2 separate regions of the Homo sapiens genome follow, and region 1 is linked to region 2. Evidence: fine-mapped expression QTL. Tissue or cell type: B cells. Region 2 holds a variant in brackets; the other region holds the start of a gene. All regions are shown on one strand. Distances are from middle to middle.

The links. PIP is the estimated chance that this variant, and not a neighbour inherited with it, causes the effect.
Region 1: it holds the start of MAST4, and the variant in region 2 is fine-mapped to the expression of MAST4 in B cells (Schmiedel 2018, PIP 0.95).

What each region holds. Positions count from the first base shown.
Region 1 is chr5:66,592,537-66,600,419 of GRCh38, forward strand. MAST4 (microtubule associated serine/threonine kinase family member 4) reads left to right here and starts at 3,857. Exons shown (of 29, transcript NM_001164664.2): 1 at 3,857-4,482. The coding sequence starts at 4,120. RefSeq lists silencers at 3,493-3,692, 4,303-4,442, 4,453-4,602.
Region 2 is chr5:66,990,821-66,998,703 of GRCh38, forward strand. All of the region lies in intron 4 of MAST4 (microtubule associated serine/threonine kinase family member 4), which reads left to right. Among named protein-coding and RNA genes, the nearest start is that of MAST4-AS1, 9.4 kb to the right of the region's middle. The variant ACTT/A (reference allele first, on the strand shown) is at 4,340.

The DNA.
Region 1 (7,883 bases), 400 kb before region 2:
TAGGGGAGTAGGCAAATCCATCATTAACAATGATAATAAAAATAGTCTACCAAAGTTGGATAATATAATCATCTTCATAATTCAAAGATAATCTGATATTTAGGATTTTTAGTGCATTAAATAGAAACATATTTACTTGTGATTTTGCAAAAATGTTCGTTCTGAGTTCATGATGTTCTAATTTCATCTATGTAAGAAAGAAGGACAACTGACCTTCCTCCCAACCTGATGTTTGGGAGAAAGGTCATGACACTGGGAGTAGACTTAAGGGTATGATGACTTTGCTGGAACATCGTCCATCTGGCAGAGACAGCTTGACATTCACAATAGGCCTCACCTACACAGCAGAGACTGGCAGAGACAACAGAGACTCCCAGAGGAAATGTCTCCCGTCACTTCTGAGAAAAACATAGAAACCGGAGGGGGGCATTCAATCACAAAACACAATGAATACTTACCGGATTCCCAGGGGTGCTGTCCTTGAATCAAATACTTTGTGAGCATGTCTCACAGAACACATGGAAACTGATTACCTTGGAGTACACCGACCTTGTCTCTCCTCGCCTTAGGCTAGTCTGGTTCTGTCATGTGACGCTACACTATTGGCTTTTCAGGAGTTGTGATGATGTTGTTTTTATTTTTCTGGCTCCTGCCTATGGTGACACTGCAGAGAAAAACCTGTGCTTTCACACTCACCTCTGGTCCCACAGTCTCCAACACTAGACACGTTTATAAAAAGGTCTCTTGGAGGGGGCACATTTCTGACCACTGAGGAAAATATTTATTATTTAATTAACAAGATAGGAAAGTTGAACTTCAGGATTTGGATAAATCAAAACTGATTTTGGTCCAGTGGTTTGGCCACACCCCAGGAAATTTATCCATGGGTCTAACTAGGATACTTTTGGGGAACTATCCTGACTCTCTAGTCATCTTCTATTTATAGTTATCCTTTGAGTTGGCCATGTTCTGGTCTGGATACTCTTAGCCTGAACTACAGTTTATTTCCCTCACAGGTGGGTGTGGAGATGAACAAGTACACTTTTAAACTGCAAGTTTTGAAGTAGAGTTTGAAATCTATTTAGTGGACTACAACTAGCATCTTTATTTTTAATAAAATATAAATTTCAGGGTGCATTGCTTAAAGGATGGGTAAGTATTGTCTCATGACATTTTATTTGTATTTGTACATATGCATATGTGTCATGAGTTCCAGTGTGAAATATATTTCTTATTTGAGGTTCAGGTTTAAAAAGTTCAAGAAATACTGATCTAGTACTTGACTTTGATCTGTAGAGGTTAAGAGCACAAATGCTGGGACCAAATGTTCAAATCTGAATCCTGGGTCCATCATTTGCTAGCTGTGTGACTTTAGCTGAATTACTTAACTTCTCTGTCATAGTTTTCACATATTTCACAAATATGATATGAGAATAGTAATAGTAGCTACCTCATTGGGCTGGTATGAGAATTGAGTATATTAACATTTTAAAGTGCTTAAAATCCTGCCTGGCACATAGTAAGTACCTTAAAAATGTTTGTGGGAAAAACAAATATGTTCCTCAAGTATTTTCTTTTACAGATTGAATCAATACAGCAAAGTTTCTTCCCTATGGATATTTATAATATGGTATATATATATATTTGAAAAAGCTGTCTGTTTTGAGTGGCATTGTATTAATACTAGAATGCCTAGGAAAGACAGCCTTGGAATCAGGTTGCTGGGTTCCAAACCACAGCTCCACTGCTTACTTGCTGTGTGACCTTTGCAGATCCTCAGTTTCTTAATCAATAAAGTGGGACTAATAGAATCTGTTTCACAAGGTTGTTGCCAGGATTAAATGAGACCATCCAGAGAAGATGCAGAGGACTCAGGCGATAATAACTATTGTCATTCTTGCTGTCGGTTATTCAGACCATGACCTTGCTTCTTATTTCCCTATGTACTGAAAAGCAACTCCTCCTCTTCTTTTATGTGCATGGCTGAAATTGTCATTTCAGTTCAGCTCTGGTGAATCAACCACGTAGGGGCTCAGATAAAGACCAGAACTCCTAAATAGGAAAGTAATTGTGAGGCCCGGGTTAAATTCGGACTGCCCCACTGTGCTCTCTCTTTAGCCTTGCTCTCACAACTTAGCTGCCACTAGACTTGACCTTTTGCCTCAGCAGGTCTTCATATCCCTGTGAATAATTCAGAAGCGTCACAATGAAAGCCTGACAACCGGAGTCCATTTTGCAGTATGGCTGTCTGAAGCAAGATAGACAAAACGTATTTCCTTCCCCTTCATCTTGAGGGGAGGAAACTGATCAGGACAAAGGTTGCTGTCCAATATGATGAAGCCCTCTGTGTGATGTATCACTTGTAAATACCATGATAGCATGAAAGGCTCATTAGCTGAAGGGGCTTTCAATTAGGGTCCTCCAGTTTTTAAGGACCTTTGGCAAGGCTGCTCTGACAAAGAGAAATCTAAGATGCTCAAGGACCTGCTACTGTTTTTCTGTAACTCTTTCCTCTTCTCCCTCACACATTTTTCCTGTATCACTTATCACAGCTTCTAAAATGGATAAGGGAGCTATATTATGCAGTATCAATCTCTCGCTTGACCATAAGCTGCTCAAGGGCAGGGGACCTGACTTATTAATCTTTGTATCCCCTGCACCTGGCACACATCTCCATCAACGTACATGGAACTGAGGCGGTTGAATTTACATCCCAGGTCACTGTGCCAGAGCTCAGAATGGGACTAGAGCTGAAGGCAAGAGAGGAATCATTTATTTCCCACTGCTGAGCTGAGTGCTGGCTTCCAAGGAAATTCCAGTCACCGGACAGGCAGCATCCTCCAGCCCCAGGGAAGGACTTAAGGGTACTCTATTGGTACCTTTAGTGAAAGTTCTTTCTCCTAGTTCTTAGAGGTAAGGAAAATGAAGCAACCTGTCCTGTATCCTGTTGGTTTACAACCCAGGGCTAGGAGAATGTACATTGGAAAGTGAATCCTTTTCATCCTCTGCTTAGCTGATCATACCGAGACAGACAATTTGAGTAGGACTACAGAGCTTGGTCCTAATTAAATACAAGGACATACTTTTTTATCTTCCTCCCTATCAAAAGGTTCAAGTCTCAGACTTAACTTTTTAGTTTACAAACAGAAATAAAGACAGGAAATAGTCTTTTAAAAACGCTCCGTGTATCCAAGCCAGGCACTTTGCTGATGCATTATATATATTTGCTCTAAGCCTGCCAAGACCAGTAGTAATGTAGCCATTTACAGTTGAGGAAACTGAGGCCCAAAGAGCTTAAACGGAAAAGCAGAGATTAGAGGTCACTCCCCTTTGGGTCCGCTCACTATACCACGAAGTTTCTGTCCTTTTCCTCCAACACGCTGGTGAGTCCGTGTGCGTGGGTGACTGTGTGTGTGTGGTTCCTTTTTTCCCTATAGAGCCCTCCTTCTTGTCCGTTTTCTTGATTCCACTTTTTGGAGACAAAGTCCAGTTCTTCTCCAAGGTCTCACCATCCGCTCGCCGTCTCCCTCTGACGTCCCAAGGACGGTCAGCCACTCCCCCGCTAAGTTCGGAGTCTCAGCCCTTGGCTCCGATTCTGGGCTCCGCCCCCACCCTCCGGGGACCCCCGCCTGGTCCCTGTCCCCTGCGCCCAGGCGCTCCAGCGGGACCACGGCCCGCGCCCGGGCCCCGCCTCCCCTACCTGAGGCCCTCATGGCCGGAGGCGTCGCAGCCTCCGCCCACCAGCGCGCCTGCCCTGCCATTGGCTCTGCGGGCTGCCCGTCTCCTTGCTCCGTCCCGGAGGCAGGTTTTGCAAGGAGAAGCCGCAGTACCCGCGGCTCGGGTGCAGCGCGGGAGCACAGTGGAGCGCAGATCGCGGACCCGAGCGGGCATGTCCCCGCGCGCGGGAGCCTCCGTTTGCGGCCGGGCCCGGGCGGCTGTGAACTTAGCAGCGGGCTCCTGCGGCCCCGTCACTGCCATGTAGTCGCTGGCGGGGCTCCCTGCAGCCCGGGAGCGGCAGTGCCAGTGAGCCTGAGCCCAGGAGCCCGCGTCTTCCCCGGGAGGCGCTGAGTGCGCGCCGCGCCCCCGCCGCTCGGGAGGCACTTTGGGCCAGACAGGGAAATGGGGGAGAAAGTTTCGGAGGCGCCAGAGCCGGTGCCCCGCGGCTGCAGTGGCCACGGCAGCCGGACTCCAGCCTCTGCGCTGGTCGCCGCGTCCTCTCCGGGTGCTTCCTCGGCCGAGTCCTCCTCGGGCTCAGAAACTCTGTCGGAGGAAGGGGAGCCCGGCGGCTTCTCCAGAGAGCATCAGCCGCCGCCGCCGCCGCCGTTGGGAGGCACCCTGGGCGCCCGGGCGCCCGCCGCGTGGGCTCCGGCAAGCGTGCTGCTGGAGCGCGGAGTCCTTGCGCTGCCGCCGCCGCTTCCCGGAGGAGCTGTGCCGCCCGCGCCCCGGGGCAGCAGCGCGTCCCAGGAGGAGCAGGACGAGGAGGTGGGCCTTTCCCCAGCTTGCCCACTCTGGGTTCCGGCAGCCGGGCGACCGTAGTTTCCCATCCTGCGCACAGGCAGTGGGCAGGAGAGCGCTGTGGCCTGGAGATAGGGAGGGACCCCAAGCGCTCTGCCCCGAGCACGGGACAACGATAGTTAGGAGCCCCCCTGTGGGTTATTGACTTCCCTGTGGCTGTTACCCCCGTGTGTGTGTCTCAGTGTGCTGCCTGATGGTGTGTTTTTAAAATGTCAGAGAAGCAAACTCCTTCGTGTTTGTATCTGACTTGGTTGATCTGTGAAAGGATGCGATCTGGACATCTGGCGTGTCCCCACAACTCACCTCTGATTCTCCAAAGTGGGCGTTGTTTCCCACCGAAGCGCTTGGGCCGAGGGGCAGGGAGTTGAGGGGGAGAAATGGTGCCTTGGGGGTAAGAGGCAGGAGTAGGGTGGGGGGCAGCGGTAGCCGCGGAGTTGCCTGCGGAGGTTTCAGTGGCGCCAGCCCCCTGGGATCGCCCGCGGGTGGTTTTGGCGCGTCCCCGCAGCGTCGGTCCTCTGGGAGAAGAGGACTCCCCGCGCTCCCTCGGTGGCGCTGGCGTGCGCGCCTGCAGCTCCCGTTCAGACTTGTTTCCAGCTTGTCCAGATGAACGCTTGTCACCAAACCGAGTACAGATCGTCTTACCTTTTGCGGGGCGGAGCGGGGTGGGGGATCTGTATCTGCCCAGTTTCCTGGAAGGATGTTCCTCCAGAACTTGTGGGTCGCTTCCTGACACACTGAGCATAGGACTCTGGTGTCCTTCTGGCTGCTCTGTCCGGCTTATTTTCTGCTTTTGGAGGACAGTTAAAGAAGTGTACAATTCTTCACGTCTCAGAGCCAGACTCAGTTTAAAAAAAAAAAAGATTGTTTGCTTTGGACGTTTCTTGTGGGGAAGTCATCTTGATCAGGCAGGGCCACAAATAAAACATCACCTTAACATAGACTTATTGTGAAATTAATTCCTGAGTGCCAGTGTTGTATTTTCCTCATCTTGGATGGGGTTAGCTTTAGTAAATAATTGCCTTTGTCCCTTAGAGTAAGCAATCAGAGGCCCCCAGCCTGGAAGCAAAAACTGGATGTGGCACAAGGTTGAGAGGAGGCGAGTCCTAGCTTGGCAGAGATGGAACAAGCCTTAGCTGCTTAGCTGGTTCTTGGCCAAGCCACTTGCAGTAACCATGACCCATTCCCTAATTCCCCTAAGCCCCCATTGCAAGGATCCTGGATAAGGGTCTGGAGGCCTGCTTTCTAGAACTGCCTCTGCTACTGAGTGGTGAGACCTTGGGTATATCATTTCACTCCTCTGAGGTTCAGTTCCATAATCTGTAAAAGGAGGAGCTTCAAGGTAAATTTCATTTTCACTCTCATACTCCTGTTTCGAATCAGGAATTTCAGATGAATCCATAGCTCCAAATCGATCCTAGCGGCGGGATGTCAGGAGTTTGCTGAGTTCCTCACCCACCGCAGAGCTACATCCTAGCGGAGATGATCAAACCCTGTACTGCCCCAGCCTTCCTCGCTGATTACATCTCCCTTTCAAGGTGCGGGGCATGTGCCACGTGTTTGCCCCTTAACTTCTGCCTCCACTTCTACAGATGAGCACACTGGCATTGGGAAGCTGGGGGTGTACCCTAACTTAATGATTCACCAATAGTTCCTAATTTAGTATTGCCGCTGGTGGAGAGTAGTTAGTTGCTTTATGTTTTCTATTTAGCTAGGAGGGTGCTCCATGGTAAGTGACATGGTCTTGCAGGTGGTGGGGAGGGATGTTGTCGGGGAACTTCTGATCCCCATTCTGTCGCTGATTTATTGCCTGGCCTCAGGGTGACAGTGCTTTGCTTTGTTGGAAGTGGATATAATGATAACTTATTTCACAGGCAATGCAGTGAGAACTGGTTGATTGAAACACATTTTGGAAAGTGGAATGATTAAATAACATGGGTCACTATTTGTGAAATCTCAGAATTGCGTGTAAACTGATACAGTATTGCAATTTATTATGTAACTTAACCTGCGGCATGGGATGCTGGAAATTTCCCAGGAGCAAAATCTTGACTTGCTCTGAGAATTTTAAAGTGAAACGAAAACCAAACCATGTAGTTTTTTCCCCTCTTATGGAGTAGAGGAGTGATAATCTTTGTGAAAGGGGTTGAAGTCCAGTGTGCATTTTCTGGTTCTTACACTGGTGATGGTATGGGGCAGGGGGGTGTTCACCTTCACTGTTTGTGGGGTTGTGGGCCTCTTTAAGGAGCAAATGAAACCTCTTTTGCCCCTCTCCTCAAAAAGCACACCAGAGGATTCGGGAATGCTGGGTGATAAACACTCATTTTAGTGGAAAGACGTGGGTTTGATTTCTAGCTCTGCCACCTTGACCAGTTGTGGGATTGTGGACCATTCAACTTCTGCAAATCTCAGCTTTCCTACCTTTAATGGGAATAATAGCATTAGAGTTAGGCATTTTACACATGCTATCTAATTTAATCCTAGCACAGTAGCTAACATATAGCATCAAATGCCAAGTAAGTGTAAGTAAATATTAATTTTTTAAGGTCACTTTTGATGACATTTTGCAAAATAGGAATACAAAGTTGGGTTGTCCTGTTATTTTATTGCTGCATAACTTATATGCTACCTACTGTCAGAGAATCGGAGGCTATGTCTACTTAGCTTATACTCATAAAATGGGAATAAACTGGGAAACAGTTTTTATTTGTCTCCAGTTATTTTGTGACAAGGCGATGTGAGTGTAATGTTATACTGTAGAAAGGCACTGAGTATAAAGCATTAAAAGGCTTGTGTGCAACTCAAAAAATGGAAAGAGGTTCATTTAAAATTGTTATGTCTAGCTTGGGAAATTGATTATTTCTAAAGGGGTGTGTGTGTGTGTGTGTGTGTGTTTACAGTAACATTGTATCAAATTTTGAAAAGCAGTAAAATTCAAGCTTCTAGTATATTAGGGCAGTGCTAATTTCTTTGGCAACCTTGTTAAAACTGTTTTGAATGTATTTAGTAATGTCAACAGAGTTTGACTTATTTTTTACTTTATCTTACTGTCAATAATTGTATAAACTTCCAAAGTCTCACACACTTAAGTCTACCCTTTAAGCTTTTGGTGTCTTAAAAACAGTAGTTTAATGTGACAGTAATGGTAGTTTTTATGTCAAACACATGACAGCTAGACATACAGCATGACTTTTGTTTAAGGAAACTGTATCTGACTTTGGCTCTTTCCCCAAACCTTTGAATTTGGGGTCCGTGTGTGTTGAGGAGGTAGCACACTTCATTTCTGAGAGTTAACACTGTCTAGATTGAAGGACTGTTCCCCTGACAACATCTCTGAGATTTGCCTTTAGGCATTCTGCCTTGTCCTTTTC
Region 2 (7,883 bases):
CTGACAGATAGAGTACATGTGATTTCTTTGGGGAAACAGATATAGTTTTATTTATTGGACTATTTCTTAGAGAAATAGTTATGAATTTAGTTATTCCCTATGAAAGGCTGATTCTTTGGATTAAAAAAATAGGTTCAGAATTATTTGAGTGAAAGCTTCTCAAAAATAATGACTCTGAAATTTAGGACCTTAAATTGCTACCACACTCAAAGAAGAAATTCTGTCCTAAACTGCTCTGAAGTATCAGTGGTTTGAGAGAAGGGATGTTACAGAGACTACAGGCATGAAACAGTCTGCTGATACTTTGCCATTAGAAAAACTGGCTGGCTGGTTTGCATATTCTGGTCTATTCATTTGTTCACTGTTTCCCACTTGTTCTTTCATTTGCTTCCCTTGGAGAGTAGCAAGTTGAAAAAAATTCAGTAGTTTTGGTATGGCTCATATTTACGAAATGCCAAAAAAGAACCAAGAGTTCTTTTTCCTTTCTCCTCGAAAATTGCCCTTGTTTGGATACTTACATGTTATATGATGGGCATAACCCCTGGGTCCCATGTTGATAGATGAGTGTTAGACTCACCCAGAATATTACCTGTCTTATATCTTTGAAGCACATACGAAATAGCCTTTGTGATTTGAGTGACTGGGCCAGTGTTCTCCATTATGTGCAGCAGGCTTCACTCCACAATAAAGCTGAAAGAACTTCACTCCCCAGTAAAGCTGAAAGTAACAGACAATACCTCAAGTTTTAGGTGCTTTACAGATACCTGGCAGCTCACTGAAGTATATCCAATCCTGTTTCTGGGACAAAATCACTGGATGGATCTTTCCGAGCCATGATTTTTGCAGTAATGTTTCTGAAGCTATAGCACTAGATACAAAGGATAAATAGAAAAATGATTATTTTGAAAGGGGAGAGAAAGGACTCTGGCAGTATCTGATGCCACTCTAGATGTTAAATGTGGTTATGTTTATCTTTTAGCCCCAGGCAGTTTATGGTTTAGGATTTTTGAACGATTGAAGGATGTGCCTCCATGAGCCCTCACCAGAGACAGCCTGGGCCTTCCTGCTTTTTTCTGTGTGTTTTGCATCAAGCAGTGTTATTTGAAGGTAGCTGCAGTTCCTTCAGGGAAGATGAGTTGGCAGCAAGGCAGACAGATACAGTCATGGAGCAAGTTACTAAAGACTTGTAAATCACTCTCAAGTTATATAATGTGATTTAATATATATTAAAACAATGATAGCAGAAATAAATAACTCATGTAGGATGAACTGTTTTCAGTTTTCCATGATGCCTGCAAATCTTTTTCTGTATGCATGCGTGATTTTATGATTGCAATCGTAATACAGGTGCACTTTTTTCTGTTGTTTTTTCATGTAATGCATTACCATGCTGCTATATAATCTTCATAATGATCATTTTTGGTGTCTGCATAATTAGTAAATAAGTCATCTACTCTTGATAACTATGAGGAAAATAAAAGAGATAGTGTCTATATCAAGAACTGATGTCCTTTTCAGTGTTTCGCATCTTCACTTCCGGTTTTCTCTAATGAAAAGAATTAGGGAGATGGAGTGATAGCTACCACTCCTTGGGAAGCCTGTCTCTAAATTCTGATGGGTAGCATCATCTACTAAACTCAGACTTCCGAAGTCATGGGCAGACTTTCCCCATCACCTATACCTTGCACTTTCATCTTAAAGTTTCAGTCCCCTTTAAACTGTAAAGCCAGCTAGATGGTCACATCTTCTAAGTTATCAACTAAACGTTAATTCTTACTTATCAATCTCATCTAAAGCCTTAGGTGAGATTGATTGTCTGTGCAATACAGGCAAGAACAAGATGTAGGAACGGGCAGTTGTGAAAGAGGAAGAAATGTGCTAGGAGAGGAGATGAACAGAGGGAACTGATTGTGAAACATTACTCAGATGAGCTGATCTGAAGTCTGTTCAACTTTGTAACTCCTCCTAAGTGCGACGGAAGGTTTCACTGGGTAAGCTGACATTTGTGAGCCAGGAGCCCCAGACTGTGAGGTGGTGGCCAGCAGATTGCAAACCTTGAGCACTGTTGATGTAGCACTCTTGATTCTCATCTTTTCTCTGCTATGGCTGTGTGTGTTGATCATGTTTCCAGCAGGATTGAGTTACTACCTTGGAAAAAGGTCACCCTGCTCAAGTTCATGTTTTTATTCATCTTTTTAGAGAAGACAAACTACACTTTACTTCAGCCATACTTATTGGGAAGGAAAGTAAAAACCCAATAGTGGCGTTTGGTTCATTTATTAATAAACCTTTTAAATATGCCTGAATATCATGGACTTTTTATTGATCATTTTATTACTCATTACGAAGATTGTCAATAATGACAGTGCTTTAAAAGAAAAATCATCCAGCCAATTGACAAAGGCAACCTGATTTTGGAAGCATCCCTCAGGGCTTATCTGTAGAAGTTGGAAAAATAGAAAAATAACTGTTTTTGTTTTTAGTTAACCTTAGAAAAATGTGTGTGCAACCATTCATTCCGCTGAGTGTCTGGTGTGTACTTTGAGACATACACAGATGAATAGAAACGGTCCTTGTACTTGGAGAGCTTTAAGCATAGTAGGGCATTAGACCTGTAAACACATAATTGTGCTGCAGTGGAATGACTGGTAAAAAAGAGGCATGCATATGAATAAAATTCATTGGGGAGCCAGGAGAAAAACCATTTATGTCTGCAGGAAAAGGTCAGGACCACTTTGCTGGAGAGGTGACCTTACAGCTCATGCTTGAAAGATGTGCAGGTTTCCAAGCAGAGGAGCTGGAAATTCTAGGAAGAGGAACAGGATGTGCAAAGGCAGTGAGGTGTGGCAGAGCTTACTGTGTCTGAGGAGCTTAAAGTAATCCAGTATTTCTGACAGGCACATAAACAACAGAGGGCACTTGTTAAGGGATGAGGCAGGAGAAATAACAAGGGATTATAGCATAAAATATTCCATTAAAAGAGGTTTTGATATTTTTGTGGAGTACCTCTCAAACTTTAAGAATCACCTGGACATTTTAGTAGAATGCAGATTTCTGGGCTGTACTTCCAGAATTATAGAATCAATGGGTGTGCAGAAGACCCCCCCCCCCACCCCACCAAATCTGCATTTCTAACAAGCACTCCAGATGATTCAATGATGATAAGACAGAAACCATGTGTGGAGAAATACTGCTGTAGAACAATGGGGACCCATTCAACTTTGTTTCATGGGAGAGTGATATGACTGCGTGCACCTGTTTGAGCTGAGCAGTTTTGGAAGAATGGTTTCACATTGACAGTGAGGAGCACCAAGAGGAAGGAACGGTACCGCATTAATCTACACAAGAGATCGTGGAAGCCATGACCAGGGTCATGGCAAGTGAGGAGAAGACATGAAAATCTATTGTTCCTTTATCATTTTATACAGAGTGAAAACTTTTACCCAATTTTCTTTTATTTTCCAATTTTCCAATCTGGTGTATTTTTCAGCCACTTTTAAATGGGATTTGCTTTTCTTTTCAGTTTTCTATTGCTGCTGTTTACATGTCCTCTGGCCTTGTTTTTCTTTCTCCTTCGTATATTAGCATTCTTAATAATTCTGTACGTACTTCATTTCCTAAAAGCTACTTATAAAGACAATTCTTGTTTCACATTCATTCATTTGTCACTCACCTGTCACTATATTGAGTAACTTGACTGGCTGTTGTTCTCATTCCTATTAACTGGAGTAACTTCTCTTTGAAAGTTTTTTGATCACCAGGAACTTTAATATGGTTGTCTTCTATAACATGTATGACAGTACATTGAATACAAGAATATTTCTATGGTTGGCAGCAGAAACGTCGTCTTTACCTTTCAGTACTCTCAGTCTAACTATATACAGACAGTTTAAACTGAATTACCTAGTCTCATGGGAAATAACAAGTTAGGGTGTTTTGGAGAAAGGAGGAAGTAATCCCAAATTATAGCTATTTAATTCTTTGAAATGAAGAGCATTATTTTTATTATATTCATGTCTAGATAATGTTAAAAGTAAGTTTGCTTCTCAAGAGTTCATGTTTTTTTTGAGCAGTGAAAGAAAGCTTTTTCATTGTACAACATGACAGAGGGAAGCAGGTCTGGAATTCAAAACTGTTCACATAAATGCACAGCCTCACCAATCTGCAAATAATGACACATATATTCAAACAAAAGCAAAGCACTGCATGGATTTAAAGCCCAGTCGGCTTTGAAAATACCCGTTTGCCCAGTTGCCATAGACAAGGTAGTAAGGATTTATATCTAGAAATCAGAGATATTTTTCATTTTTATATTATAGAATTCCTGAGAGTAGGAAAG[ACTT/A]CTTTTTAAAAGCAATTTTAGTATTTATTTCCAAGACTCATAGAGCTTTTATTAATGCATATGCATTATTTCGTGTGTCAAAAAATATCAATCAAATTTTATTAAAATACCAGAGTAAAAGTGTGTATTGTTTTCTTAAGTTTGTAAACTCTTCAAAGTATTCTAAAATTCTCAGGAACTTGAACTTTCAGGTCATGATAATAGGACTGTCAAATGTGTGGCTCCTGGAAATCAGAAATTTTTTTGTCTGTTTGTTTTTGAGACAGAGTCTCACTCTGTCTCCCAGGTTGGAGTGCAGTGGTGTGATCTTTGCTCACTGCAAAATCCACCTCCGGTTTCAAGTGATTCTCCTGCCTCAGCCTTCCAAGTAGCTGGGACTATCGGCACCCGCCACCATACCCAGCTAATTTTTGTATTTTTAGTAGAGACGGGGTTTCACCATGTTGGCCAGGATGGTCTCAATCTCTTGACCTTTTGATCCACCTGCCTCGGCCTCCCAAAGTGCTGGGATTACAGGCGTGAGCCACCATGCCCAGACGAAAATTTTTTAAATTTAAAACAACCTAGGCATAGCACAGTGGCTCATATGTGTAATCCCAACACTTTGGGAGGCTGAGACAGGAGGATCACATGAGCCCTGGAGTTGGAGGTTGCAGTGAGCCATGATTTCACCACTATACTCCAGCCTGAGAGACAGCAAGATGCTCTCTCAAAACACACTCACATACACACACACACACACACACACACAAACTTGTAAAAAAACATGAGAAGTATAAAAGAGGATAAATCATAATTCTGTACTGACAGATGTTCATTAAAAATACTTTGTTGGCCAGGCATGGTGGCTCACGCCTATAATCCCAACACTTTGGGAGGCTGCGGTGGGTGGATTGCCTAAGGTCAGGAGTTTGAGACCAGCCTGGCCAACATAGTGAAATCCTGTCTCTACTAAAAATACACAAAATTAGCTGCGCATGGTGGCAGGCACGTGTAATCCCGGCTACTCGGGAGGCTGAGGCAGGAGAGTTGCTTGAACCCCGGAGGCAGAGGTTGCAGTGAGTCGAGATCGTGCCATTGCACTCCAGCCTGGGCAACAAGAGTGAAACTCCATCTCAAAAAAATATATATATATATACTTTGTTGATTTCCATCGTTTTTATTCGTATATAACCATATATATAATATCTTAATGTAGATCATAGAACTTCATTTTTTTCTGATTTTAAAATATTACTTCAGGAGCATTTCCCATTTATTACATATTTTTTAAAAATATCATTGTTTTAGTTTCTTCTGGTTACTATAACAAATTATAACAAACTAGCTTAAAACTAGCTTATATTTATTTATTCTCTTAGAATTTTAAAGGTCAGAAGTCCGAAATCAATTTCTGTGCGCTGAAATCAAGGTGTCGGCTGGGCTGAGCTCCCTCTAGAAGCGCTGAGGTGGAATCTGTTTCCCTGCCTTCTCCAGCTCCTAGAGCTGCATTCCTTGCAGTTTTTTGGCTCTTGTCCCCTTCCTCCATCTTCAGGCCCAGCAGCCTAGCATCTCATTTCAGTGCCACATTGCTGCCTTCTTCAAGTATCCCTCTGCCTCACTTTCATAGAGACACTTGTGATTATATTTAAGGCCCACCTGGATAACCTAGGACCAACTCCTCATCTCAAGATTCTTAATTACATCTGCAAAACTCTTCTTGCTATATAAGGTAACATATTCACAGGTTCCAGAGATTAGAACCTGGATATCTTTGGAATCTATTATTCAGCCTACTGTAATTCTAATTCTTTACTGGTTTTCTAAAATTCTATTTTGTGGCTGTTTTAGGATGTATTAACAATTGCCCTCATCTTGTACCTTTGGCTTTTTCCCAACATTATGCTATTATAAGCAATTCTGAGATTAATTTCCATATCCACAAATCTGTGTGCATACTTGATTGTATCTTTTGTATAAATATTGCATATTAAATTATAATTCAAATATATCTATGTATATATTATATGTACATGTATATATGGACACATACATTTATATATGTGTTTGGACATGTACACATATGTGCCTACTACATGTATATATATGTATGTGACCATATATGGGTCTATGTATGTATATGTTTTCCTTCTCCAAATTGCCTTCCAGAAAGTTAGTAGAGAGTACTTATCTTCCCCATGTCCTTACCAACATTGAGTATTATCTTTTTTTAATCTTTACCAGTGAAACAGGTAAATTGATACCTAATTAATGTGTTTTTTTTCTTTTCTCTTTTTTTTTTTTTTTTGAGATAGAGTTTCACTCTATTGCCCAGGCTGGAGTGCAGTGGCATGATCTCGGCTCACTGCAACCTCCATCTCTGGGGTTCAAGCAATTCTCCTGTCTCAGCCTCCCAACTAGCTGGGATTACAGGCACCTGCCACCATGCCCAGCTAATTTTTTGTATTTTTAGTAGAGACGGGGTTTCGCCACGTTGGCCAGGCTGGTTTTGAACTCCTGACCTCAGGTGCACCACCTGCCTCCCAAAGTGCTGGGATTATAGGTGTGAGCCACCATGCCCAGCCTGATTGATGTTTTAATTACATTTTATGATAACTAGTAAGAGTTAACACTTGTCATGCCTGACATTATATTTATACCCCTATGAATTAACGTTTCTTTTAAACTTTTTGTTGGTATAGAAGTGATATAACTTAATAGAACTCCTTGACTAAATAACTTCATGTCCTCCCTGACATATCTTCCGATGTGTGGAATAATTGGAATTGATCTTAGCAATGGAAGGAAATTCCGATTGTTACAGAAGCATGTGATTTCTACCTCTGTATATGCTCCCTGTTTGGTACTTTGATGAAAACTCATACTTCTCATTTTAATGGCATAATTTTCCATAACTTTAGATGTATGACCTGGAAAAAATATTCAAGAAAAGAAGAACGGATAAATTAACCTTAATCTTAAATTACAGAAAGGTCTTAGTGTCAGCTACGAAAGGGCTAAATATAACCATGCTGACCCACTTAAACCAAATTGACACTTCTTATAATTGCACTATAATTCATGCTCAAGAGCTGTATAAGAAATGATGCACCTTAGACCCAAGTTTCTGGATCAAGAAGCACCTTGTCCTTGAAGTTAATTCCAGATTGAGCATCTAATGCAATGATTAGTAGCCATGGTTCACTGTTACCATCAAAAAGAATTTAGCACTTCATACACAACTAGTTGTATATTTATACTTAAACGCAATTCGTTACCTATCATGGTCTCTGTTGAGATTTTGAAATTTGAAACAGTAGACCTGCCTAATAGGTACAGCTTATATAGATAATGGAATGGACTCATGGACCCATGAAACTGAAATTGAAATAGACAGGAAAAGGTTTTTAAAACACATATAGGGTCAGTCTTTAAAATATTAGGCAGGTAGCCCTAACTTTGTTATCACACATCTTTCTAACCTGTAGCAAATCCATCCTCAATCTCTTCTTTCCCCTGCCCACCCCTTCACCCCCAATCCTTTCTCTATTGTTCCCTTTCT